Linked DNA regions of Homo sapiens. The protein of the gene in region 2 interacts with the protein of the main gene of each other region in a biochemical or structural test. Each region holds a gene or a part of one and is shown on either strand. Other genes may lie near its edges.

Evidence for each region.
Region 1: the proteins of OBI1 (region 2) and CNOT10 form a complex in vitro, tested with the Homo sapiens proteins (one study listed by BioGRID).
Region 3: the proteins of OBI1 (region 2) and CNOT2 form a complex in vitro, tested with the Homo sapiens proteins (one study listed by BioGRID).
Region 4: the proteins of OBI1 (region 2) and CNOT6 form a complex in vitro, tested with the Homo sapiens proteins (one study listed by BioGRID).

The regions. Positions count from the first base shown.
Region 1 is NC_000003.12:32,688,161-32,695,188, forward strand, and holds part of CNOT10 (CCR4-NOT transcription complex subunit 10), read left to right. Parts: intron 1-6,003; exon of another isoform or gene 6,004-6,080; intron 6,081-7,028. UniProt on the Homo sapiens protein: Component of the CCR4-NOT complex which is one of the major cellular mRNA deadenylases and is linked to various cellular processes including bulk mRNA degradation, miRNA-mediated repression, translational repression during translational initiation and general transcription regulation.
Region 2 is NC_000013.11:78,635,130-78,642,157, reverse strand, and holds part of OBI1 (ORC ubiquitin ligase 1), read left to right. Parts: coding exon 1-36; intron 37-3,086; coding exon 3,087-3,335; intron 3,336-6,959; coding exon 6,960-7,028. UniProt on the Homo sapiens protein: E3 ubiquitin ligase essential for DNA replication origin activation during S phase.
Region 3 is NC_000012.12:70,337,431-70,344,458, reverse strand, and holds part of CNOT2 (CCR4-NOT transcription complex subunit 2), read right to left. Parts: coding exon 6,946-7,028; intron 6,704-6,945; coding exon of another isoform or gene 6,674-6,703; exon of another isoform or gene 6,040-6,673; intron 6,017-6,039; coding exon 5,896-6,016; intron 5,794-5,895; coding exon 5,637-5,793; intron 2,353-5,636; coding exon 2,291-2,352; intron 2,202-2,290; coding exon 2,152-2,201; intron 349-2,151; coding exon of another isoform or gene 332-348; coding exon 231-331; intron 1-230. UniProt on the Homo sapiens protein: Component of the CCR4-NOT complex which is one of the major cellular mRNA deadenylases and is linked to various cellular processes including bulk mRNA degradation, miRNA-mediated repression, translational repression during translational initiation and general transcription regulation.
Region 4 is NC_000005.10:180,560,377-180,567,404, forward strand, and holds part of CNOT6 (CCR4-NOT transcription complex subunit 6), read left to right. Parts: intron 1-4,112; coding exon 4,113-4,217; intron 4,218-4,298; coding exon 4,299-4,367; intron 4,368-5,443; coding exon 5,444-5,601; intron 5,602-6,711; coding exon 6,712-6,866; intron 6,867-7,028. UniProt on the Homo sapiens protein: Poly(A) nuclease with 3'-5' RNase activity.

The DNA.
Region 1 (7,028 bases), on a different chromosome or scaffold from region 2:
TCACCAATGGCCTGTTTTGCCAGGTACTACTTTAGGAACTGGGCAGGAACAAAACAAAGTCTCTGTTCTGGAGCTTATTTACTATGAAGGACAGATAAGCATGTAAATAAAATGAAAAATAAGATGATTTCAAGTTGTGATAGATACTCTGAAGAAGGCCAAGTGCAGTGGCTCACACCTGTAATCCCAGCATTTTGGGAGGCTGAGGGGGGTGGATCACCTGAGGTCAGGAGTTCAAAACCAGCCTGACCAACATGGTGAAACCCCATCTACTAAAAATACAAAAATTAGCCAGGCATGCTGGCGCACACCTGTAATCCCAGCTAGCTGGGAGGCTGAGGCAGGAGAATTGCTTGAACCTGGGAGGCAGAGGTTGCAGCAACCCGAGATCGCACCACTGCACTCCAGGCTGGGTGACAGAGTGAGATTCCATCTCAAAAAAAAAAATAATACTCAGAAGAAAAAAATGAGTAAGAGAGGCTGTCTGCAGTTGCTCACACCTGTAATCCTAGCACTTTGGGTGGCTGAAGTGGGAGGATTGCCTGAGGCCAGGAGTTTGAGACCAGCCTGGGCAGCATAAGTGAAACCCTGACTCTAAAAAATAAAAAGCCAGATATCATGGTGTGTGCCTATAGTCTCAGCTCCTAGGGAGGCTGAGGTGGGAGGATTGCTTGTACCTAGGAGTTCAAGGCTGCAGTGAGCTTTGATCACGCCACTGTCCAGGCAACAGGATGAGACCCTCTCTCAAAAAAATAAAATAAAAGGCCGGACGTGGTGGCTCACGCCTGTAATCCCAGCACTTTGGGAGGCCGAGGTGGCAGATCACGAGGTCAAGAGATCGAGACCATCCTGGCTAACACAGTGATACCCCGTCTCTACTAAAAATACAAAAAAATTAGCAGGGCCTGCTGGCGGGTGCCTGTGGCTCCCACCTGTAATCCCAGGACTTTGGGAGGCCGAGGTGAGTGGATCACCTGAGGACAGGAGTTTGAGACCAGGCTGGCCAACATGTTGAAACCCTGTCTTGACTAAAAATACAAAAATTAGCTGGTCGTGGTGGCAGACGCCTGTATTCCCAGCTACTCGGGAGGCTGAAGCAAGAGAATCACTTGAACCCAGGTGGCAGAGGTTGCAGTGAGCCAAGATCGTGCCATTGCCCTCCAGCCTGGGCAACAAGAGCAAAACACCATCTCAAAAAAAAAAAAAAAGAAAAAGAAAAAAAAGAATAGAGGATGACTGAAAGCCTTGTTTTTCAGATAGATTAGAGAAGGGCTTTCTTAGAGTTGACATTTAGACAGAAACCCTAAGGATAAAGAGCCAGCTGTGTTGGGAAGAATGATCCAGGTAAGAGGAGCAACAAATATGCAAATGTACAGAACCCTTGCTTGGAAAATGTCTAAAGAACATCAAGCAGACCCCTTGAATACAAGCTCCCCGAAGATAGAGACTTTTGTCTGTGTTAGTTGTGTTCTAGCTCTAGTCCCTAGAACAATATCTGACAAGAGACACTCAACACATAATTTAAGGCTGGGCATAGATGCTCACACCTGTGGGAGGCTGAGGTGGGAGAATCGCTTGAGGCCAGGAGTTCAAGACCAGCCTAGGCGACATAGCCAGACTTGTCTCCGTAAAAAATAAAAAAAAATTAGCTAGGCATGGTGGCGTGACCCTGAAGTCCTAGCTACTCCAGAGTCTGAGATGAGAGGATGGCTTGAGCCCAGGAGTTGAAGGTTGCAGTGAGCTATAATTGTGCCACTGTACTGTAGCCTGGGTGACAGTGCGACCCTGTCTCAAACAGAAAACAAAAAAGCCAATACACATAATTTATAGCATAGGGAGCAAAGGCAGCATGGCAAGAGATAAAGTCACAGTTGTATCAGGAGTTGGTGTATGTTGGGCGTTACAGGCCATGGAGGGAGTTTGAATTCATTTTAACTAATGGGAAGAGAGTGGAAGTTTTCAATAAGGGCATGATGGTGTGATCTGATTTATATTTAACTGATCCAGGTAAGGAATGATAAGAGTAGGGGCTTTGAAATCAGATAGTTTAGGTTCATCCTAGCTGTACTACTTGGTATTTGTGGGAAATTGGGCAAATTTCAAGAAGTCTTTTTTTTAAGCTTCAGCTTTCCTGCGTGTAGAATGAGAACGATGAAAGTATCTACCTCACAGGTATGGTAACAGGTTAAATGATATAATCTCAGGCTCTGAGTTTTTTGGTTTTTTTGTTTTGTTTTGTTTTGAGACAGGGTCTCACTCTTTCACCCATGTTGGTGTGCAGTGGCACCATCATAGCTCACTGCAGCCATGAACTCCTGGGCTTAAGCAATCCTCTTGCCTTAGCCTCTTGAGTAGTTAGGACTACGGGTGTGTACTACTGTATCCAGATAATTTTTTTTTTTTTGAGACAGAGTCTCGCTCTGTTGCCCAGGCTGGAGTGCAGTGGTGCGATCTTGGCTCACTGCAAGCTCCGCCTCCCGGGTTCACACCATTCTCCTGCCTCAGCCTCCCAAGTGGCTAGGACTACAGGTGCATGCCACCATGCCCGGCTAGTTTTTTTGTATTTTTAGTAGAGAAGGGGTTTCACCATGTTGGCCAGGCTGGTCTCTAACTCCTGACCTCATGATCCGCCCGCCTCGGCCTCCCAAAGTGCTGGGATTACAGGCATGAGCCACCGCGCCCAGACTTATTTGGTATTTTTTCAACTTTTTATTATGAATGATTTCAAACACCTAAAAAATTTAAAAAATAAAATGAATATCTATATATCTACCCCCTAGTTCATTCAGCAATTGTTATATTTTACCATATTTGCTTCCTCTATCACTAGCTATGACTTTTTTTTTTTTTTTTGAGATGGAGTCTCACTCTGTTGCCCAGGCTGGACTGCAGTGGTACGATCTTTGCTCATTGCAACCTCCATCTCCCGAGTTCAAGCGATTCTCTTGCCTCAGCCTCCCGAGTAGCTGGGCTTGCAGGCACACGCTACCACAGCCAGCTTTTTTTTTTTTTTTTTTTTGAGATGGAATCTCACTCTGTTGCCCAGGCTGGAGTGCAGTGGTGCAATCTCGGCTCAGTGCAACCTCTGTCTCCTGGGTTCAAGTGATTCTCCTGCCTCAGCCTCCTGTGTAGCTGGGACTACAGGTGTGTGCCACCATGCCTGGCTAATTTTTTGTATTTTTAGTAGAGACGGGGTTTCACTGTGTTAGCCAGGATGGTCTCGATCTTCTGACCTCATGATCCACCCACCTCGACCTCCCAAAGTGCTGGGATTAACAGACGTGAGCCACTGTGCCTGGCCATGCCCAGCTAACTTTTGTATTTTTAGTAGAGACGTGGTTTGACCATGTTGGCCCGGCTGGTCTTGAACTCCTGAGCTTAAGTGATCTGCCCGCCTCGGCCTCCCAAAGTGCCGATGTGAGCCAACACACCTGGCTCTAGCTATGACTTTTAATGTTGAATCATTTCAAAATAGGTTATAAACATCATAACACTTCATCTCTAAATATTTCAACATGCGTTTCTTAAAAATAGGGACATTCACCTATGTAACCATGATGCCATTGTCATAGTTTAGACAATTCATGTTTTAATATATTAAAAATTTCCTGCCAGCCAGGCATGGCGCCTCACGCCTGTAATCCCAGCACTTTGGGAGTCTGAGGTGGGAGGATCAGTTGAGTTCAGGAGTTAGAGACCAGCGTAGGTAACATGGTGAAACCCTGTCTCTACCAAAAATGTAAAAAATTAGTGGTGGCGCATGCCTGTAGTCCCACCTACAAGGGAGGGTGAGGTGGGAGGATCATTTGAGCCTGGGAGGCAGAGGTTGCAGTGAGCCAAGATAAACACCACTGCACTCCAACCTGGGTGACTGAGTGAGACCCTGTCACCAAAAAAAAAAAAAAAAAGCCAATTTCCCGCCAGGCATGGTGGTTCATACCTATAAATCCTAGCACTTTGGGAGGCCGAGGTGGGTGGATTGCTTGAACCTAGGAGTTCAAGTCCAGCCTGGGCACCATGGTAAAACCCTGTCTCTACAAAAAATACAGAAAGTTAGCTGGGTGTGGTGGCATGTGCCTGTAGTCCCAGCTATGGCTATATTTTAAAAATTTATTTGTAGGCACAGGGTCCCAATATATTGCCCAGGCTGGTCTCAAACTCTTGGGCTGAAGGAATCCTCCCAGCTTGGTCTCTCAAAGTGCTGGGATTACAGGTGTAAGCCACTGCACCCAGCTTTATCTCCTGTATTTTCTTAAACTCTAACTTATTTCTACAGGCTTGATTAGATATAGGTTCAACATATTTTTGAGAAACTTTGTAGGTGATGTTATATACTTTATTTTCTGTATAAAGTACATAATGTCAGGTTATCCAGTATTAGTGATGCTAAATTTGATCAATTTGAGGTGCTGACAGGAACATCTTTTTCCATTTTCAGTTAGAGGTAATTTATGGAGTAATTGGCATTTCGTAAATATCCACTGTTGTTGATTCTTTCCTCAATCAGTTGTATTATTGAGGGTTACAAAATGATTTTTACCTAGTTCTATTGTAGTTTCTACCTTTGTTAGTGAATATTCTTCTTTAAAGAGTAGCTCTCCTGGGCTGGGTACAGTGACTCATGCCTGTAATCCCAGCACTTTGGGAGGCCAAGGTAGGCAGATCGCTTGAGCCCAGGAGTTCAAGAGCAGCCTGGGCAACATGAGAGCCTGTCTCTACGAAAAGATTGAAAAAACTTAGTTGGTGTGCTGCTGCGTGCCTGTAGTCCCAGCTACTTGGGAGGCTGAGGTAGGAGGTCACTGGAGCCCAGGAAGTCGAAGCTACAGTGAGCCGTGATCACAGCACCGCACTCTAGCCTGGGCTACAAAGTGAGACCCTGTCTCAGAAACAACAACAAAAAAGAATAGCTTTCCCATATTGACTGTTAGTCTTCCCAGAAAGCCATGTTAAATGCTAAAAGCTTAATTCATTATTTTCAATTACCAGTTTTCAGAACAAGGAGTTGATGTGGTAGTGACCTATGTTTGATATTTAAAGTGGTTTTTTTTCTTTTTTAAATTTAATTAATTTTTTTGAGGCAGGCTTTCACTCTGTTGCCCAGGCTGGAGTACAGGGGCATGATCTTGGCTCACCGCAGCCTCGACCTCCCGGATTCAAGTGATCCTCCCACCCCAACCTCCCAAGTAGCTGGGACTACAAGTACATGCCACCACACCTGGCCAGTTTTTCTGTTTTTCTGTAGAGACAGGGTTTTGCCATGTATCCCGGGCTGGTCTCAAACTCCTGGACTCAAGCAAGCCTCCTGCCTTGACTGCCCAAATTGCTGGGATTACAGGCGTGAGTAAGTGTTTTTAATATTAGAATTTAGAGTAATATATTGGTCTTTTTTTTTTTTTTTCCAGACAGGGTCTCACTCTGTCACCCAGGCTGGAGTGCAGTGGCATGAACACTGCTCACTGCATCCTTGACTTCCCAGGCTCAAGCGATCCTCCCACCTCAGCCTCCCAAGTAGCTGGGACTATAGGCATGCGCCACCACGCCTGGCTAACTTTTGTATTTTTTGTAGAGATGAGGTTTCGTCATGTTGCCCAGGCTAGTCTTGAACTCTTGAGCTCAAGCCATCCTCCCACCTTGACCTCCCAAAGTGCTGGGATTACAGGTGTGAGCCACCATGCCCGGCACTTATATTAGTCTTATGATTTCAATTTAAAATGTATAATTGACTGAATATTGATTTATACTTGTGAATTTAAATTGAAACCTTATTGCAGTTATTTTATTTTGTGGACATTAGAGAGTACCTAAGAGTCACTATAAGTTTAATTTTTTAGGTATGTAAGTTATTCTCAGGAAATTTTTTTTTCTTGACACATGTTAAAATACAAAAATTTTGTCTTTTTAAGTCTAGCAATTATACTTAAAATTGAATATATTGTTGGGGTTTGGTGGGGGGGTTGCAATAGTTCTCACTTGATAAATTTTTTTTTTTTTTAATTTAAAAAAAGTGTTTGGTACTCTACACTTTCAGAGAAACTTCTCCAGTAACAAACTGTAGAAATGATCCCTGAAAGTGTAGTCTTGGTAAAATTTTTTAAGTAGTTAACATTTTATGTTTGAAGATGTTATGTTGAAGGTGAACTTTGAAATGAGTTTAGACATTCATCACAGGCCTTTAAAATTAGACCTCCAAGTAGAATAAGTTGTCTAAGTTCGGTGTAAAAATTTGAGTAAAATCTAGGCTTTTTGAATTTGTAACTTTAATAAATTAAGTATTAATATTTTAAAACTAGAGTAAATCTCAGTCTTTTCTATGCATAAAAACTCCTCCTCTTAGATGTGAAAACAAAATACTCATCAGCAGTGGCAATATTCTGCTTTGCCTAGCTTCCTTAAAGCATGCTGATATTGTTTTTTCTTCTTTCAGTTTTTTGTTTGTTTGTTTGTTTTTTGAGGCAGTCTTGCTCTGTTGCCTAGGCTGGAGTGCAGTGGCATGATCTCGGGTCACTGCAATCTCTGCTTCCTGGGTTCAAGTGATTCTCCCGCCTCAGCCTCCTGAGTAGCTGGGATTATAGGTGCGCACCACCACGCCCAGCTAATTTTTGTATTTTTAGTAGAGATGGGGGTTTCACCATGTTGGTCGGAATGCTCTCAAACTCCCCACCTCGTGATCTGCCTGCCTTGGCCTCCCAAAGAGCTGAGATTATAGGTGTGAGTCACCGCGCCCAGCCTAACTTTTATATTTTTAGTAGAGATGGGATTTCACCATGTTGGCCAGGCTGGTCTCAAACTCCTGACCCCAGGTGATCCTCCTGCCCTGGCCTCCCAAAGTGCTGGGATTACAAGCCTGAGCCACCGTGCTGGCCATGCTGATATTATTGATTTGAATTTCTGTTCCTTTATTTCTACACTACTGGGCAGGATGCTCAATTCTGTAACATTGCTTGTTACAAATGGCTTATTCTTTGGGCTGCGAAGTGTGTGCTTTCCCATTTCTCCAGCTCCTCTTGTCCAGTGGAGGGAATATGGTT
Region 2 (7,028 bases):
AAAACTAGACTTGAATTACTACACAAAGAATATGAGGTAAACAGTAATCAAAGTTTAAAATTATGTTAGCAGTGAATTCAAGGTAAAAACTGACCTACCTCAGTCCCCAGACTTCTTAGAGTAAATATCCAATGAAATTTTATTTTAAAAGCCTATAAAAAGAAATTGTTTGATAAATTCTTTTTTCTTTTTTCCTTTCGTATTTTAAATAGAGGAAAGAGATTTTTTGTTTTATTTTTTTTCTTTAAGTACCAAGGAATGGGGGAATGGGATTCCAGAAAAAAGGAACAGATGGAAGCATTTCTTTCTTTTTTTTTTTTTTTTAAGTTAAAATTTGTACCTCCACAGACATATCATTTTGTATTTGCTTCCTCAAGAAGTTGGGAGAAAAAGGAAATCTCCTTGTGAAAGCCAGTCTGACCTCTGCAGTCATCAGTTGCTTCTGCCTATGAAGTTACTGATGATTATAAGCCTGATCAATTCTAGTAAAGTAAATACTATACCTTATGTCAACTGCCAGCACAGAGATTTTAGTGTGAAACATGCTGTTTCCTAATTATTGTCTAAAGGTGAATGAACAGGATGATTGGACATGGTGATGCTATTTTTACAAATAAATTCATGCTAATAGAATACATACACTTTTGAATAGTACACATTAAGCCCAGTTGTCATTTTATGTTGACTGAAGAAGGAGATATCGATCCCCTCTTGACTCAAAATATCTTTCAGTTTAACTGTGTACATGGAAGGTGCCTCAACTGCCTCAAAAATTTTTGGAATGCAGTGGGGTATAAATACATGATTGAATATATGTTTATTCATATATGTGTTCCTTACATATATGAATTTGCTTGTTTTATGAAAATGCTATTTAAGTTGAAATGTATTGCAATTTAAAATAGTAAGTAGTACTATCTGTGTGACATTTAATGCTAAAATGTATTTTTATATAATGAATATTTATCATACTCAGATGGTAAACAAATTAATCCTTTGGGAGATCACTTGAGCTACTTGGGGGTTTATTTTCTAGCAGAATTTTTAACAACCTCAATTTAAGGTGACATATTTATTATAGATGAATAAATGGCATCATAGTAAGAAGTTCTAACCCAAATGTTTAGTGACTGGTTTTAGGATAATAAACATTTCCAGAGTGGGAAGGCTAATACTTGCAATAGTCACAGTAGTAATTGAAGAACCAGAATCCAGAAAAGTTGAAAATTCAAAATTAACTACAGATATTATTCTGGAATGAAAAGTAGAAGGAAATGGTAGATGGTTTCACTCATACTTCAAATATAGAAGTGAAAGTATAAATATCAAAACCCTAACAATCCTCTTTTTCTTTTTTGAGACAGAATCTCATTCTGTCACCCAGGCTGGAGTGCAGATGGCATGATCTCGGCTCACTGCAACCTCCGCCTCCTGGGTTCAAGCAATTCTCCTGCCTCAGCCTCTCAAGTAGCTGGGACTGCCGGTGCCTGCCACCACACTCAGCTAATTTTTTGTATTTTTAGTAGAGGCGAGGTTTCATCATGTTGGCCAGGCTAGTCTTGAACTCCTGACCTCAGCTGGCCCACCTGCCTTGGCCTCCCGAAGTGCTGGGATTACAGGCACGATCATCTTGATAACTCTGTACAGTCAGCCCACCATATCCAAGGATTCATCATCTGTGGATTCAAACAACCAAGATTGAAAATTAAAAAAATAAATATATATAAAAATAATGTAGTTTAATAACTATTTGTATGACATTTACTTTGTATTGGTTATTATAAATAATCTAGAGATGACTTAAAATGTATGGAAAGATGTATGTAGGTTATATGCAAATACAGCACTAGTGATTTTCCATCAGGAACTTGAACATCCATGGATTTTGGTATCCCTAAGGGTCCTAGAACCAATCCCCTGTAGATGTGGGGATGAGGTGGGGACAAACTGTACCTTTTTTTTTTTTAACCCGGCCCCCCTCAATGTACTTTCAAATTCCCCTCAGTAAAGCAGTTGAGTATGCCTCAAGTTTTTTGTTTTTTTGTTCTTTTTTGAAATGGAATCTACTTCCCTGTTGGAATTCATGTGACTTTTCTTATTTTCTGGATGATATCTTTTTTTTGTTTGTTTGTTTTGTTTTGTTTTTGTTTTTGTTTTTGTTTTTAATTATACTTTAAGTTTTAGGGTACATGTGCACATTGTGCAGGTTAGTTACCTATGTATACATGTGCCATGCTGGTGCGCTGCACCCACTAACTCGTCATCTAGCATTAGGTATATCTCCCAGTGCTATCCCTCCCCCCTCCCCCCACCCCACAACAGTCCCCAGAGTGTGATATTCCCCTTCCTGTGTCCATGTGATCTCATTGTTCAATTCCCACCTATGAATGAGAATATGCGGTGTTTGGTTTTTTGTTCTTGCGATAGTTTACTGAGAATGTTGATTTCCAATTTCATCCATGTCCCTACAAAGGACATGAACTCATCATTTTTTATGGCTGCATAGTATTCCATGGTGTATATGTGCCACATTTTCTTAATCCAGTCTATCATTGTTGGACATTTGGGTTGGTTCCAAGTCTTTGCTATTGTGAATAATGCCGCAATAAACATACGTGTGCATGTGTCTTTATAGCAGCATGATTTATAGTCCTTTGGGTATATACCCAGTAATGGGATGGCTGGGTCAAATGGTATTCCTAGTTCTAGATCCCTGAGGAATCGCCACACTGACTTCCACGATGGTTGAACTAGTTTACAGTCCCACCAACAGTGTAAAAGTGTTCCTATTTCTCCACCTGGATGATATCTTAAATAGAATCAAAGATTTGGCATTTTTAAAAATCACAACTAACATTGAATTAAAATGAAGGCAACATAAATCCCAATTTTTATCAGTCAGGCCACATTTTGAGAATTTAAACTGTATGTGACTTTCTCCCTGCAAAACTCTTTTGATATGTAAAGAATCTATGTATCTACAGAATTTTAAGTACAAAATTCAAACCATGTTGGCTTCAGTTTAGCATATGTATGTATGTGTTTAGTGTCTATGCCTGCCTCATGACTATGCAATGCTTTTTCAGGACGAAATAGATTGTTTACAGAAAGAAGTAGAAGAGCTTAAGAGTAAAAATCTCAGCTTGGAGTCACAGATCAAAACTATTCTGGATCCTTTAACCTTGGTGCAGGGCAACCAAAATGAAGACAAACATCTAGTCACAGATAATCCAAGTAAAATTAACCCAGAAACTGTAGCAGAGTGGAAGAAAAAACTCAGAACAGCTAATGAAATCTATGAAAAAGTGAAAGATGATGTGGATAAGCTAAAGGAGGTAAGTTGTGGTTTTTAAAAATCTATTATGGTTGTTTTTAAAATAAGTACCTTCAAAAGCATAAATAGCCATATTATCTTGACTCATCATCAGATGATTTGTGAGGAAAGGACAGAATCTCTGGATGAGCATTTATATGCAATAAGAAGACTTTTTCTTATTTAAATATCATTAACTGCCAAGAAATATCAGGTGGTTCCATGTGTGACTATAATTAGAGACTGTTGTGCTTCTGTATAAGATTGCATCTTCTTCTAGAAGAATAATACCAATTTAAAGGATGTGTTTCTGTTTCGTCCTCTTTGTGGTTTGCCATAGGTTTTTTAAGCTTATATCAGCGACTTCCCCTGTGTACCTAAAAACAAACACATAACCATTTTCGCACCAATGAAAGGAAAAGTTTTGACCTTATCTTTTCTTTTGCTACCACTCTCTTATTTTTAAGATTGTAGATAGATAAAGACTTGGTGACTAATTCCAGGACAGCAATAAGCAGCTGCTTCAGAGTACCTCATGCAAAAGAATGTTGTGATTTATGAAACTGGTTCATTTTTTTCAGTTTTTCTTTGAACGAGATACAGCATGGTGAAAAAGGCAAACCTCTAGGATTTTTCGGCCTAGAAAGGGAGATAAGATCCATGCCATCAGCACTAGATGTTACAGGCAACTCCTACAACACCATCTTGACCCAAGTGATCAGCCTTTAGCTTGAGTTCAAGTTTATCCACAGTGGAGTCCTCTTGTGCTGAAAGGAGATGGCTTTGTAGTACTCAGTTCTACAATCACATATTCAACTATTTGCATTTCCTTAAAATACTATTCCTGTGTGAAATTACTAAATCTTATCTCTCAAAATTATTAATGAGCTCCATATGGTATTTTAAAGGAGTTCCCCTGTATATTGGCTCTCAGGTCCTCAGGTTAAGTAGCAGAGAAATACTTGCAACTTAGATGTAAGCCATCTTCCACATATAAAATAAATGTTGTTTGGGCTCAGAAAAGGCCAGGGTGAGGAGAAGAGAGAGCCTAGTGCTTTTAGATAAAAAAGAAACTACAGACATAATTGTACTGAGTTTGTTATAAGTGTGTAGGAGGGAGAAGTGCATAGTTTCTTTGGGTATTGATGACCAGTGTTAGTACCTTGATTTGTTAGAAGACAATAGGATACTAAAAGGAATGCCAACTCGGAAATTACAGTATTTATCAATTTGCCTTGTTCCCTTTAATTTCCCTGGTTCTTCTTGAGCCATTGGTAAGCACTATATGATCTCCTTTGTAGTTATTAAACTTCGTTTAAAGTTTTGGCAGTAAATATTTCTTAGAACATGAGGCTTATAAGGGTGATATGAGGGATGGATATTAAAGAAGAATACATAAAGCACAGTTAATTTTCCTTTGCTCTTTTAATGGTCAAATGTTAAATTCAATACTCAAAGCTACCCTGGGACTTCAGAATTCTTTGGGATATTGAATAAGCCCATTTTCTATGCCTAGTGATGCTAGTAGGTAATAGGTTATAAACTGGGACATAAGTGAATGAAAAAACATGGACTGCAGAGATAAAAACTAAAGTGTGGAGTAATAACATACTCAACATAATCAAATACAGGAATACAAAAGATTCAGAATAAAGGATTACTTAGCATGAATGAAGTGGACTTTTTTTCTGATGTTACCTGGAATGGGTGAGTTTTGAACCATCGTGAGGCCAGTGTCATTACCCAATCAGTGTTGAGAATGCAGAAGGGTTAGCTGAAATATTCATTATTCTTTTAGGTGCAAAAGGTAGGCAGAACTCTGCCCTTCATAACTTTTATTCACCTAACCTTCTTGAACTTGAAAAGATCTCTGATAGTTGAGGAACTAGCCAGCCTATAATGAGAAGTATTAGAGAGTCAAAGGACTGTTGAGAGACTGAAACATAGCCATACAGTAGTGGTGGGGGGCAGGGAAGGGGAAAGGAAATCAAATGAGTTTCTAATTTAAGCTTGTCATCATCATCAAAAAGCATTCACTAAATGCCTCCCCTTATGGTGCTGTGCTTGAGAGCTTAATTCATTGTCTGCATATATGAGGAAGTAAATGGCTTTCCTTATATCTTCAGAGAAGCAGTAATGGTGTTTATCAGTCACTTAAAGAATTAACTCTCCACAGTCCTGGTTGGTGTGCATTCATGAAGATAAGCAGGTGCCTAGAGCCCAGAGGGAACCTGGATGGGTCTAAGTCAGGGAGTTAGACTTTATGCCCCCAAATAATGTTCTCTACCTTATTTCTTCTGTGATCCTTGTGCTGCAGCTTATGTGGGTAAGTAAGTAATACAGTCAGAAGTTCTTGAAATTCATCTAAGTAATAGCCAAATTTTTGAAATACGTTTTAAAGGCTTCTTGGTTTAAACCTTTTTTGGTGACAGTTATTCTTGTGACCCATTCACTTTAAATGTAAATGTTCTGGTCAAAGAATTTCCCTTTCCCAGGTTAGTGAGGTTGGTTTCTAGTCTAGGGAGTGTTATTTTTCTTTGTAATACATAAAAGCAATGAGTAGGGAATTTAAAGGAAGTAGCTTCTAAGAAGACTCTAAAATTTAAGCACACTAGTTTTCAGTGTGTCCAGAATCAGTGTTGAGCCTCTAGATTTTCTAGCAATTGGTGTCCTGTTAGGTAATTTTTAGGTGTTATACAATTCAAGAAAGAAAATCATACTTGGAAGGATTTTTTTTTTAATCGAAGAACAATTCATAGAATTTATTAGAAAATACTGATCCAGGCCTGGCAAGTGGCTCATACCTGTAATCCTAACACTTTGTGAGGCTGGGGCAGGTGGATCACTTGAGGCCAAAAGTTCAAGACCAGCCTGGCCACTGTGGCAAAACCCTGTCTCTACTTAAAATACAAAAATTAGCTGGGCATGGTGGCACATGCCTGTAGTCCCAGCTCTTCGGGAGGCTGAGACAGGAGAATCACCTGAACCCTGGAGGTGGAGGTTGCAGTGAGCCAAGATCACACCACTACACTCCAGCCTGGGCAACTGAGCAAGACTCTTTCAAAAAATATAGATAAATAGATACATAGATAGATAGATAGATAGATCCAATTTTGAGGGCCCTAGAAGTTGTGAGCCAGAACGTTGGAAAAGCCTTTTTGAAGAGAAAAAATCAAGTGGTTAAATCATATTAGATTTGTTATCACTAGAAAAAAATTTTTAAACAGCACCCCAGAAATCAATTTCAAAGCTCAAGAATTAACTCTTCAGCATTAGTTTGCCGATATTGCATGTGGTATAATGTTACCTTGCCTAGAATATTCAGTTATGTGAAAAAGAAAAAAAATCACACATACATTTGCCATTAGTATGGTCCCTTAATGACTCTAAGCTAACTAACATAGTTTTGTTTATTTCCCTGGACAGGAGATTTGCAAAGTGCTTGGGGAATATGGTTTTAAAATGCTCAGTAGTATTCAGTTTCTGAAGTCATTCCCAGTAGTGATTTTAAGTTTCTGAAGGCCATGTTCTACTATTCAGTTTTCTGATATTATCACTCTAAAAAATACGGATGGCTCATGTTGTAATTTTTACAAGTCACTTTTATTGTAGCTTTTGCTTACTTATTTTCAATTTGTTATTTTAGGCAAATAAAAAATTGAAATTGGAAAATGGTGGTCTGGTGAGGGAGAATTTACGACTGAAGGCTGAAGTT
Region 3 (7,028 bases), on a different chromosome or scaffold from region 2:
ACTGCACCCAGCTTCAGCATTAAGTTTGAAATTCTTTTTAGGTATATAGATTATGAAGCCATGGTTAAGATACGGTTTTAATCTAAATTAAATTCACTTTAATAATGTAAAAATAAATTTCTTGATGGAGAAATAGTTCCATTTAAAGATAGCCATCATCACTTAAAGATGTTTTCAGCATAGTCAAGATCCACTATAATACAAAAGTGATTAAAATACTTTGAACATACAGCTCCACTGCAGCTAAAAGTTGTAATACGTCTCCTCCATTCATGTAATAGAGATAGAAGAGAAGGTCTTCACCATATCGGCCAAGTTTTATTGCAGCCAGCTGAAAAAGAAAAATAACTTATTCTGAAATATAAAACAAATCTGCAAATCCTAATATATAGTTGCTACTACTAAAGAAAAAATGGAGAGATAAACAGAAACTCCCCACTTTGTAGTAGATAACTGTTATTACATGATTACACAGATAGGTAGTTAAGATTCTAAAAGGGAATTTCCTCATTTAAATGACTGAAGTCATTTAAACAATTATTTCTGATACATCTAATTGATATGCTGACTGGAAGAAAAGCTCAATAAAGACTTCCAAGCAAGATCCACTAAAAGGATTTAATACCCAATGGGGAAAAGAACCTAACAATAGCATTGTGCTCAGAGATCTAGGACTTGTATTCAAGTCCTGGTTTTATTACTCATTAATATGACTGTGTCCTAGTTATTTAAAATCTCTTAGCTTTACTTGTCAAATGTGGACAATGACACCTATGAGGGTTACTAAGAAAGTAAATAAAATGAGTGAAGGTATATGAAAGCACCTTGTAGAGTGCCAAATATATAGACGGCTTATAAAAAATGTTAAACTGAATCTATATCTGACAGTGAATGATTCACAAGTCAGTTGTATGCTTTCAGCAAATCACAGATGATGAATACAAAAATCATAAAGAAATGGCTTTTCAGTTTGTTTAAATAGATGTCTGAAAGATGATTGCTTTACATTTCTCTCCCCAAGGTAGAAACATAACTGCTTACCAAACTGTAAAACATAGGTTCAATAGTCTCAAATTTTCACATTTAAATAAACCTTAAAAGTGTCCCAAAACAACATTTTTATCTCGTTATTTGATCCTATATCGAAATACTTATTTGGTTATTACACATTCTCTGAATGTAATTTTTCTCTCCATTCATGTTATCCCTATTCAGGCAGCAGCCCCAATGTGACAAATTCTCCTAAATTAGTATTTCTCAAATTGGTAATAAGAAAAGGTTCTGGAACACTTTGGTAATTGGAGCGAAAGAGCTCTACAGTGGTGGTGGGAGCAAATCACACAATCCGCAAATAGAAAATAGGAGACCTCTCCATCTTGTATTTCTTGCCTTTTATCTACTCAAGTATTAGAAGACATTGAGAAAGGTATCCCTTTACTTGCCTGTCCACATCAACATCCACTTGACCACAGAACTGTAAGGCACACTCAGAATGCTGTTGTATATATACACATACACATAGATATTTATACACAAATATATAACAAAAATATATTTTTTCACTAAATTGTAGTTTCCCAAGGCTAAAATTTAGGTACCATTGTGAATATTTTTTGGTAATAGAAACAAACTCTCAGTTCTTCTAAAGCAAAAAGTGCCACCATTTTCTTTCTTAGATTGAAAAAAGAGAGATTAAGCTGTAATCTGTTGTTAATAACTACTTTAGAATTAGAATTTTAGGTGATTTAAAAAAATGGAAATGAAAAAATACAGAGAAAAGTCAAAGGTCATAAATAGTTTTTAAAGATACAGACCATCTCATTAAAAACACTGTATCTGTAATACTTGTAACGAAAATCTTTTTACTGGTAAGGTCATAAAATAAGATTATCAGAAGGATATTTATCAAATGTTCCAATCTAGTTTATTCTCATCAACTGCGGTTATGGTTGTAACCTGTTGTTAAATGTAAGAATTTTTATTTTTTACCAGTCCTAACATTTACCATTTAACAAGTTAACATGGACATATGAAAGCATATCCCTGAGACCATTACTAATTATTTCAAAAATAGTATGCTGCCTGAACTGAAAAACATGTGAAAAATAGATAAATTCATGCTGACTGAGTAGAATAATAAACTACACTCACCTTATCCCTAATGTGAATGTTCGTTAAGTACTCAGATGGAACATGGAAGTCTGGATAATAAAATGAAAAAAGCCTTATTAACTGATTCTCAATTGTAAATTTCTTTTTAAAAGGTCTAAACACAAATAGATTCTCCTACCTATGTCTTGAGGTCGACAAGGTGAAGATGCCCAGGGTGACGCAAATTTGGGGTAGAGATTTCTGAATAAGGAGGAAAAGAAAACATTTTGAAATCCAGAAAAAGAGATTTCTAATTTTATTTCAGGAAAAACAAAGACTCCAACTGTAAAATGACCATCTTTACTTCTAATTCCCTTACTTGGGTTTACTGACTTATACAGAAGCAAATGAAGACTGTGTGTGTTTGTGTGTGTGTCTGTAAAATATGATAGGACTCCTTCCCTCAGTATTCTTGCAATACAGTATAAATAACACAACATATCACAATATACAAAACATGATTAAAAATTTTCTACTTTTACTTGATTTCAACTCAAGATGCTTTAAATTCTTCAATACCATGCTCCCAATATAAATTAAATTTTAAATAAATTTTAAATAAATTTCCCATTTATTTGTGTGGCAAGAAGAAAACTGAGTAACTATTTGCAAAAGTTTAAATTCATCAAATATTTACTGAGTGCCTATTATATGCCTGGCACTGTTCTAGGAGCTTACGACACATCAGTGAGCAAAACAAGATCACTGACAACATGAAACTTACTTTCTGGTTGAGGATGGTGGATTGGAGGGGGACAGACAAAATCAATTAACAGAATAAATAAATAAACAATGGCCCATGTTAGAGGGGAACTGGGAGGGGAGACTGGATGCATAATTATTAAATAGGGTGGTCAGTTAGGTTTCATTAAGGTGGTCAGATCTGAAGATTTGAAGGCTATAAGGGACATAGTCATATTAATTATCTGGCAGAAGACTCTTCTAGTCTGAGGGAACTCCTAGAGCAACTAAGGCAGGGACATGACTGACATGCCTGAGATATAACAAGGTGGCCAGTGAAGCTGGAATACAGTGAACAAAGGGAAAAGCTGTTGAGGTGGGGTTAGGGGACAAACAATAATCATGTAAGACCTTGCAGGCCTGTGAAGATTTGGGGTTTCTGGTCAAGCGCGGTGGCTCACACCTATAATTCCAATACTCTGGAAGGCCAAGGTGGGCAGACCACTTGAAAAGTGAGGAGTTAAGAGACCAGCCTGGCCAACATGGTGAAATCCCGTCTCTACTAAAAATACAAAAATTAGCTGGGCATGGTGGCACATGCCTGCAATCCCAGCTACTCAGGAGAATCGCTTGGACCTGGGAGGTGGAGGTTGTAATGACCCGAGATTGCATCACTGCACTCCAGCCTGGGCGACAAGAGCAATACTCTGTCTCAAAAAAAAAAAAAAAAAAAAAAAGATTTGGGGTTTTTAATCATAATGAAACCACAAACATTTACTGGGTGTTGAGCAGAGGAGTAATGTATTAAAAAAGGATTGTCTTGGCTGTTATATGAAGAGATTGTACGGGAAGGGGTATAAGGACAATCAGGGACCCCCAGTGACTGGCTAATGGAGTATTCAGGCAAGAGAGAATGATTCAAACAAGGGTGGTAGCAGTTAAAAGTAGTGAGCTTTGGTTAGATTCTGTATATATTTTGGGAAAAGCCTGATTATGGGGTATAAAAGAAAGAGGAGTTAAGAATAATGCCAAGTTTCTGGAAGTACAGAGTTACCACTAACTGAGATTGGAAAGGCTGTAGACAGAATAAGTTGGGGGGTGATCATTCAAGAAATATTTAATTGGCAATTGAATGTAGAAATCTCAAACTCAGAAGTGTGGAATGGAAACATATGTTTGGGATTCCTCAATATATATGGTATTTAAAACAATAAGACTAGAAAAAGATCATCAAGGATGTAAATGCAGAGAAGAGGAATGACACTGAGGTCAAGAAGAAAAGGAGGAGGTACCAGCAAAGGAAACTGAAAAAGACCAACCAGTGAAGATGAGGTAAAAATGGTGCTCTCAAATTCAAGTACAAGAATGTGTATCAAGGAGCAAGAGTTCCTCCAAGTGACCACTGAATTTAATAACATGAAGGTCATTTGGTGACCTTGATAAAAGCAGCTTTAGTGAAGTGGCAGGGACAAAATCCTGACTGAAATGGGCTTACCAGAGAATGGGAGAAGACCAAGTCGGAGAAATGGAGATGACTCTTTGAAAAGTTTCGCTTCAAAGGGAAATAAAGAAATGGGAAAGTAACTTACGGAGGAGGTTGGATCAAAGGAAGATTTTCTTCTAAGATGAGAGAAGTAACAATGTATTTCTATGTTGATGAAAATGACCCAACAAAGTGTGAAAATGTGTTGTAAGTAGAACGCATGGGTCAATTATGGTAATAGGGTGGAAAACAAGAATAACATAGGTGTAGGTGGCTGTAGGTAGTCAGATTTGTTGGCTAGACTGTGCTAAATGTGCTCTTCTAATTGCTTCCATCTTTCTTAGTACAGTAAAAGTGAAAAGCAAGATCATCATTTGATAGTAAGAATAAGGAGAAAAGGTATTAGGGGCATGCAGAAGTGTACGATAGTTGCATAAGAGAGCAAAAGAGTAAATGGACTAAGCATGCAAGGTATAATTATCACTGGTAGAATTAAGAGCCTACTTTTGAGGCTCCTGGGCATGAAAATAAAGGAAGACCAGGCAGTGATATCATGTGTTTTTCTCTAGCAGAGCTCAGTAGCACAGGTCAGGAATGAAATAGGCAGAAACAATCAGTACTGTAGCTTTGGCCATGCAAGTATAACAACATGAGAAAATGGCAAGTAGTCATGGGATATGTAAATGAACAATTATGACTGACCACAGAATTTCATGGGTAAGAAGGGAGTTGATCACAGGGGAAAAGAGACGGGGATCTGGAAGAACAGTTAAAATACCGAAGAATCAATAGATTGAAGGTCCCAATGGAGTGAAATGATTACAGGAATCACAGTACTAGAAGAAGAGAAATAGAAAATAGAAAGTGGAAGTCGGAAAGCATGCGAGCTCAGATTTTAAAATTGAGAGACTGCAGTTACGAACAATGACTAGGTCAAAGGGATAACTAAAGGAGTGGCTGAAGTATACTACAGGACAAAAATTCCTGGAGGAAAGAAATTCAAGGAGCTGAGATTTCAGGATTCTGGAAGGTGTGTGTGTGTGTGTGTGTGTATATATATATATATACACACACACATATATACATGCACATGCACACACACACACACACACACACACACACACACACATAAAATGCCAAATTATAAAAGGAATACTGCAGAGTGACAGTGATCTAAGAGCTAACATGAATGGGAATGACCCAGAGAATCAGCAGGTTAACAATGAGTAGCAGTAGGTGAGATAATTTGATGACATGATATTAAAAACTGGAAGTCTGAAGAGGTATTATATACAGACATGGAAAAACAGAAAAAACTTACTCAGGAGAGTTCAGATTGAGGCCTAATGTTGTTAAGTCACTTCCTAATGCAAGATGTACCATTCCTGGGTCTGTCTCTGCTGCCCTGATAAATGTTAACAGGCCAATCATTCCAAATTGGTCCGTCACCATCCCTTGAGGAATGTTAGTAACCCGACCTGGGTAGGAAAAACACAGTTGCTTTTATTTTCAAGAAAAAGTTAAAAAATAGAAAAAAAAGCATTCTATAATATCTTTGACATAGATTTCTAGAGTCCCACCATCAGGTAACACCTGGATCCCTTTTTTCTGCTGGTTATTATTTTGTGTTGTTGAACTTTTATCTCCAGGGAATTTGGGTCCATCTGTACTTGAAGTTGTCTTGCCAGATGTATTCAAATTCTAGCATGAAAAAAATTAAATGTGACATTAAAATTTGTTAAGTATACAAATTCAAGTTCACATATTAATACCTTGCTATTTATTCTTTATTACATTTAAATTGGTAGTTAAATTATTACCTGTTTTTCAAGTTCTATAGAAAATTGTTTCCATCATTGTTCCATGGTATACAAATAAATCCTATATCATCCACATTTGAGTATTTAAAGAAAAAGAAATCAAGGGAAAATATCTTATTTATCTCAGATCTTCAGTCACAGAAAAAAAAAAATCTATCTCTTTCTCAGGTCTTTATGCTTTGGGATACACTTGAAGTTACACTCCTCAATGCTTTCATGTAAAAGAGAAACTAAATATAGTATATTACCTAAAATCACCAAAGCTACCTTGAAGATAAGTTAGACATACAAGCTTTAAAACTTTGTACTTATTTTAATTCTTACCGATCTTCTTTATCAATTATTTTAATAATATATAAACTCCCATCACACACAGAGAAAAGCTATTTTCAGTGAAATGTGGAAGAAATAAACATATTTGTTAAGTCAGAAAGAAGAAGCTGAGTTGGTTGAATCAACACAGGTATAAAAATGTGTATAAATTCTTCAAGGAGAAAACTTACTCAAGAAAAACACAGCTCCTTAGAAGGCTATATTATCAAACTTCATGGGATCCAGCTGACAGGGACTACAATAAAAGTCTAAATTAACTCTGAGAAGTTCAACAGAAATTTGCAAACCTATATGAAATAGGAAAAAAATAGGCTATCTTCTAAGTTATAAAGCTTTTCCACATTCTTCAGAAGTTAGGTTATTACAGATATCAAGATAAAACAGTTTTGTAATAGTATTTAGTAAGTAATTGTTAATATAAGAGAAATCTGAAGGGAAAAACTACATCACTCACATACACACTTCTCAGTTACTTACAGATTTACTGTCATCATTACTTGATGTTGGATCTTTATAGCTGGAGCCTGGTAATGCTGGAAAATCTTCATTGTGTATTGAGA
Region 4 (7,028 bases), on a different chromosome or scaffold from region 2:
ACTTTTTCTAGTGGTTCCCTTTGGGTAGATCTGCTGGCAGCAGATTCTGTTAGTTTTTTGTCCTCTGAGATTGTCTTTATTTCTCCTTCATTCCTGAAGGATGTTTTCACTGGATATAAGAATCTGGGTTTGACAGTTCTTTCGACACCTGAAAAATATTTTGCTGCTTCCTTCTGGCTTCCATGGCTTATCATGACAAATCTTTCGTCATTCCAATTTGTTTTTCTCCTGCAGGTAAGGTGTCATTTTTCTCCGGCTGCTTTCAAGATGTTTTTTCTTTGTCTTTAGTTTTCAGAAGTTTAATTATGATGTGTCTTGCTGTGGATTCCTTTGGGTTTTTCTTGTGTAGGGGTTCACTGTGCTTCTTGAATCTGTTGGTTTATATTTATTGCCATATTGTGAGAATCTTCAGCCATTATTGCTTTGAGTACTTTTTCAGCCCTGTCCTCCGTGTCCTCAGCGTCCAAGGCTCTGATGACATGAATGTTAGATCTTTTGTTATAGTCCCACAAGCCCCAGAGACTTTGTTCTTTTTGTTGTTGTTGGTGGTGGTGGTGGTGTTGGTCTGTGTTCTTATCTATCTATCAATCAATCAGTCAATCAAGAGACGAGGTCTCGGGCTGGAGTGCAGTGGCACGATCTTGGCTCACTGCAGCCTTGACCTCCCAGGCTCAAGCAGCTCTCCTACCTCAGCCTCCCAAGTAGCTGGGACCACAGGCATGTGCCACCATGCCTGGCTAGTTTTGTTTGTTTGTTTGTAGAGACGAGATTTTGCCATGTTAACAAAGCTGGTCTCGAACTCCTGGCCTCAAGTGATCCTCCTGCTTCAGCCTCCAAAGTGCTGGGATTATAGGCATGAGCCACTGTGCCTAGCCTTCATTTATTTTATTTTTCAGTTCTAATATTCCCATTTGGTTTTAAATGTTTTATTTGCCTGAACTTTGTTTCTTTGCTCAGTCTTCCTGTTTTCTTGTGTGTTTTGTGTGTGTGTGTGTGTGTGTGTGTGTGTGTGTGTGTTTTCAAGCATGTTTTTAATTTCTCATTGAAGCATTTTTGTCATGATTCCTTTGTCTTGGTTGGGTAATTCTGTTTCTGTCATCTCAGGGTTGGAAGTTGTGTTTATCTTTTTGCATTTGATATCTTCGTGTCTTGGTGTGATGAGCTATTTTCATTTGAAACTGGACTCACTCATGTTATGAAACTCTAGATCTTGTTTAAACCCTTTAGTTTGGTTTTCTTTGCCTAGCACTGCTGTGACAAGGGAACCAGGCACTGTCTCCTTACTGCCAGTGGAGGTAGAAGTTCAGGTTCCACTTGGCCTTCGCTGACACCTGGGAGTGGGGGCTCCTCGTTGCTTCTGGTGGAGGTGGTAGTTTTGGCTCTTCACGCGGCCTCCACAGGCACCGCACTGGCGTGTCCTCTTTATTGCAGGGAGATGGTGAAAGTCTTGACTCTCCTTGGCCTCCTCTGACACCACCTCAGAGGGAGGAAGGGAGCTCCATATCGCCTCCTTTCTTTCTCTTGCAGCAGAAGTCTACCAGCCTCTCCACTTGCTCATGCTGGCATGGGTAGAGATGGGACCACGTTTTTTTCTTTAGTGTTAAGCTTGAGTACAGTGGTTCTTATCTAAAACTTTTGTCCTTTTAGGCAGCCCTTCCCTGGTCCTTTGGCTTTTGTTGGGATTCTTTTGGGTCTGTACCCATTGGTATTTCCATGTTACTGGCTTCTTAGCTGCATGTCTGGCATATCTGAGGCAAAAAGTGAACCCAGGGAACTCATCCCTGTGCCGTTCGTCAGGTCCTGCAGTCTTTGGCTATTCTGCCTTCTCTCCTTTTTTCAGAGTTTTGTGTTTGCTTTACACATAATATACAGTGCTTTTAGTTGTACCTAGTGGGAAGAATAGGGAAAAGTGTTTTTACTCCATCTACCCTAAAGTAACTTCTCATTTACTTTTTTGTTCTTTCTCAGGACTCAGTATAGTTTTAATTCCAGAATTTTATTGTTATTGACTTTATTCATATATATTGTTTTCTGTTTCCAAGTAGTGAAGAGCAGATTAATTTTCAATTTAAAAGAAGTCCTGGCCGGGCGCGGTGGCTCACACCTGTAATCCCAGCACTTTGGGAGGCCGAGTCGGGTGGATCACGAGGTCAGGAGATTGAGACCATCTTGGCTAATGCGGTGAAACCCTGTCTCTACTAAAAATACAAAAAATTAGCCGGGCATGGTGGCAGCTGCCTGTAGTCCCAGCTACCTGGGAGGCTGAGGCAGGAGAATGGCGTGAACCCGGGAGGCGGAGCTTGCGGTGAGCCGAGATGGTGCCACTGCACTCCAGCCTGGGCAACAGAGCGAGACTCCATCTCAAAAAAAAAATAAGAAAAAGAAAACAGCATCACTGTAGGTCTGGTTAGAATGAGCTGTTTACCTGATACCGAGAAGTTTTCAGTTGACTTCATTTTCTCAAGATGTGTTTCACAAAGGGTCCTGATAAGCTTCAGGTTGTAACTGCTTATCTCACGGGATTGTGACTCAGTGAAAACATGAAAAGGCTGTGGTGGGTATAAAGAACCACACACACGTGAGAGAATGGTACTCTTGTAATTGCCTTCCTGCAAATACCTACTTTGCACTTAGAGCAGCACATTTTTCTTTTTATAATTCTTAGAATCCTAGAATCTTAAAACCGAAAGATCTTAAAGATAAATGAACTTTGCCATTTTTCCCATCCATGCAACTCAGCTTCTTTGAAGGATACTCCACTGCCTCACAGCACAGGGTGTCTCAAATAGTTAACAGTGTTTGCCAACCTCTTCTATTCGGCCTTGGCCTTTCCTGTTAAATTTTTTTTTTTTTTTTTGAGACAGAGTCTCGCTCTGTTGCCCAGGCTGGAGTGCAGTGGCGCGATCTTGGCTCACTGCAAGCTCTGCCTCCCAGGTTCACGCCATTCTCCTGCCTCAGCCTCCTGAGTAGCTGGACTACAGGCGCCCGCCACCACGCCTGGCTGTTTTTTTTTGTTTGTTTTTGCTTTTTTTTTCTTTTATATTTTTAGTAGAGACGAGGTTTCACCGTGTTAGCCAGGATGGTCTCGATCTCCTAACCTCGTGATCCGCCCGCCTCGGCCTCCCAAAGTGCTGGGATTACAGGCATGTCTTCCTTCTGCTCTTTGAGTCCAGTCTTTTATGAGAGAATAGGAAAAAACACTTCCTTTAGGTTTTGATCATTCTTATCTACCATATCCTTTAGTTTTTCTTCATTTGGTATGGTTAACATCTTTGACCATTTTATCTGCCTTCTTCAAACTGCAGAATTTGTCTGGTTTTCTTAAAATGGCGCTGTGGCATCCAGAATAATACACAATGCTTGTGTAGGATGGATAGGAACTTTGCTCCATGAAACCCTGCGCTGCACTGTTGTTATTTGTACTTTTATTTCTCATGTACATAAGAAACCCTTCTGAGAGGATTTGAGATTCTTGTAGGTATATGTAAATCATTGTTTTTGCTCTCATTTTGGAACAAAGCAGTTATTGAATTTACAGATGGCTCATGGCCCTGGGATTTTTTCCCCCTCCTTAGTGAGTTAATTCTTAAGCCAAGTCAGCCCCATTTTGTTGCTTTGTTCAGTATGACTTTAAAAAATCTAAGTGCAAGTGTATATTTGTCATTAGGGTGTTTTGTTGTTAGCTTTGTGACATTGTAGAGTTTTGATTCTCTGATGCATTACGCTGGCTTTCATCCTTCCCTTCACTGTTTCCTCTGCCCACCCACTCTCCCAGTCACCTGCCTGCCCCGTTCGTGTTTTGCTCACTCTTGTTTGTTATAACCATCTGTATTATTGAAAGTGTTGGCAAGGCAGGGTCAGATATAGAGCACTGCTAGTGCATTTCTGATTGACATCAGCCCATTAACATTATGTTTTGAATGTGTATATAGAACATGGTATGAATCATTTTTACTTATATCAGAAACTGAAAAAACAATATTTTCTATAGTCTGACATCTTACTAGTAACTATAACATAGTTATGGATGATCTGATAATTTTGATACATTTTAAAATTTTGAAACATTTTATTACTTAGTTTCATTTTACTTATTTCAAAAATATTTCCAGGAAATCCCCTTACCCAGGATATATTGAACCTTTATCAGGAACCAGATGGAACAAGACGGCTGCTGAACTATTTGCTTGATAATTTGTCAGGTACTGCAAAAAGAAGTAAGTGGTTATTTGTTTAAACCTTTTTATTAGGAAGACGTGTAAGAATATTGCTTAATTCTGTATTTTCTATTCAACTAGTTACAACAGAACAACCACCTCCAAGGTCTTGGATTATGTTACAAGAACCAGATAGGACAAGGCCAACTGGTTGGTAGTCTTTTATTTTTTAACTGTTATTTTTGCTCAGTCTCTATAAGCCTAACAGTATTGTCAGCATGCTTAGATTACAGGTAGCATTAAGACAAAATGTTTAAGGTTGGTTTGGTTTGGGAGGTAATAAAAAAGAATTCTTGCTCACATGACCTCTATGTATACTACATTGTGCTATATAGAAAGTGTGCTATAAAGCAGTGCTTCTCAAACGGGCAGTTTATCCCCCAGAGGACATTTGGCAATGTCTGGAGACAATTTTGATGGTCGTAACTGGGGAGAAGTGCTGCTGGCGTCTGGTGGATGGAGGCCAGGGTTGCTGCTCAGCATTCTATAGTACACGGCACAGGCCCCCACAACAGACTTCACCTGAAATGTCAGTAGTGCGACTCTGGTTGAGAAACCCTTCTGTAGTGTACTGATGAAATTCACTTAAAATGAATACACCCAAATTTTTCTCTATGAGAAGTTTCCAAATCCTAGCATGTTCCAAATGGATTTGACACTACCGAGTTATAAGAGAGCCAAACCCTTACTTAGAGGAAAGTGGAACTAATGACTGCTCATCTCCTTTTAACCTAAATTCTATGTAAATAGTTTGGGAGCTTTCATGGTGCGTGTAACAAAATTTGGTCTGTGATACCGTTTTCATTTTGCATGAATTAACAATAGTTGTGCTGTAGAAGAAAATGAGGCATGCCTATTAAGGATACTACCTATCCAGTTTCCACATCTTACATTAACAGTTGGTAGCATGGTAGAAGGAGTATAGAAATGAGGAATGTTAGGCTCAGAGACTGAAGGGCTCACGAGCTTAGACTTTTCACTTCCAGACCTTCTGTGCCTACCTCTGTAGCAGGTAGTACATTGTATTCTAACTTGTTCACTTATCTATCCTGCTTGCATTATCCGTCTTTTATTTATCCCCCATATGTGGCGTACAGTAGCTTTTCAGTGACTATAGATTGAATGAATACGGTCAAACTTAACATTTAAGTGAAAACCATTACTGAAATTAATTATATATTTTTTTCTGCCACATGTGTGAATAAGTAAAGTTATCTTTCCTACAGCCTTGTTTTCTGTCATGTGCTATAATGTTCTTTGTGATAAATATGCGACCCGGCAGTTATACGGCTACTGTCCATCATGGGCGCTAAACTGGGACTACAGGAAAAAGGCCATTATTCAAGAAATCTTGAGCTGCAATGCTGATATCGTAAGTCTTCAGGTAAGTCAGACAGAAGACAGTCAACCTAGCATTGATAAAGGAAGGAGCAACTAGGAATACATTACGCTGACACATTTGAAGTTTTAGCTTCAGTAGTTCTTAAAGTACTGCTTTTTTCTGTTATTAGTGAATCCTGGGAGTACTGCCTGCTTTGCTTTGCAGTGCTATGTTGCAAAATAGGCAAATGTGTTAAGCTGGGATTTATGCGTTTGCCATGACCGCTAAATACTCACCTTCCTCCTCCCTCCAGCGTCCCTGCACTATTTTTGAATTGGGTGGCAAAGTTACTGAAATTCTAGCGTGGTCAAGCTATAACTTGCATTGCCGACCATGTTGCTAGAACAATTAAGGCACCGTGTAAAAAGGACTGACTTGGTACACGAACATTTTGGGTTCTCAGTGCAACTCTCATAGTCACTCATATGATCTTGAACATGTTACTTTCTGCCCAAGGGTCTGAAGTTATGATTTGTAAAGTTCGTCGACCTCTGTGGTTCTTGTTCCACCTCAGTTCTAAGACATAAGGAAATACACATGCATAGAAGTGTGTCTTTCACTCACTGTTCTTAAACAACAATGAGTTGCCCTTGGTACCTAGTACCTGTAAAATGACAAGTCGCTGTTCCAGTTGGTTTCAGATAAATAGTGTTGAAAAGATGTTACTTTTTTTTTTTTTTTTTTTTTTTTTTTGGGTGGTGGGGAGACAGGCTCTTTCTCTGTCCCCCAGGCTGGAATGCAGTGGCATGATCTCAGCTCACTGCAACCTCCGCCTCCTGGGTTCAAGTGATTCTCAGCCTCCGTAGTAGCTGGGATTACAGGCATGCACCACCATGCCTGGCTAATTTTTGTATTTTTAGTAGAGATGGGGTTTCGCCATGTTGGCCAGGCTTGGTCTGGAACTCCTGGGCTCTAGTGATCCGCCCGCCTCGGCCTCTCAAAGTGCTGGGGTTACAGACATGAGCCACCATGCCCGGCCCGGAAAGATGTTACATTCTTTAATCTGCAGACCAGTCCTTTGAAATTATTTCAAGCTCTCAAACTATACATAGAAGTTAATATGCAGACTAATTTTTGTCTTATGAAATAACTGTGCTGTTTACAACTTTTCAGGAGGTTGAAACGGAACAGTATTACAGTTTTTTTCTGGTAGAGCTGAAAGAACGTGGCTATAATGGATTCTTCAGTCCTAAGTCTAGAGCTAGGACAATGTCAGAACAAGAAAGGAAACATGTTGATGGCTGTGCAATATTCTTCAAGACAGAAAAGTAAGTCATCTTATTTTTTAAAAAGAACGTTTTCTCAGTATTTGCAGGGTGGGGGCCAAGGGTGTGGAAACTAATTGGCAAATGAGAGAATGAGGCACTATATTATTACTGAAGCAAAGAATACTGTTTGACCTAGGGGGTTTTTGTTTGTTTTTAATCATC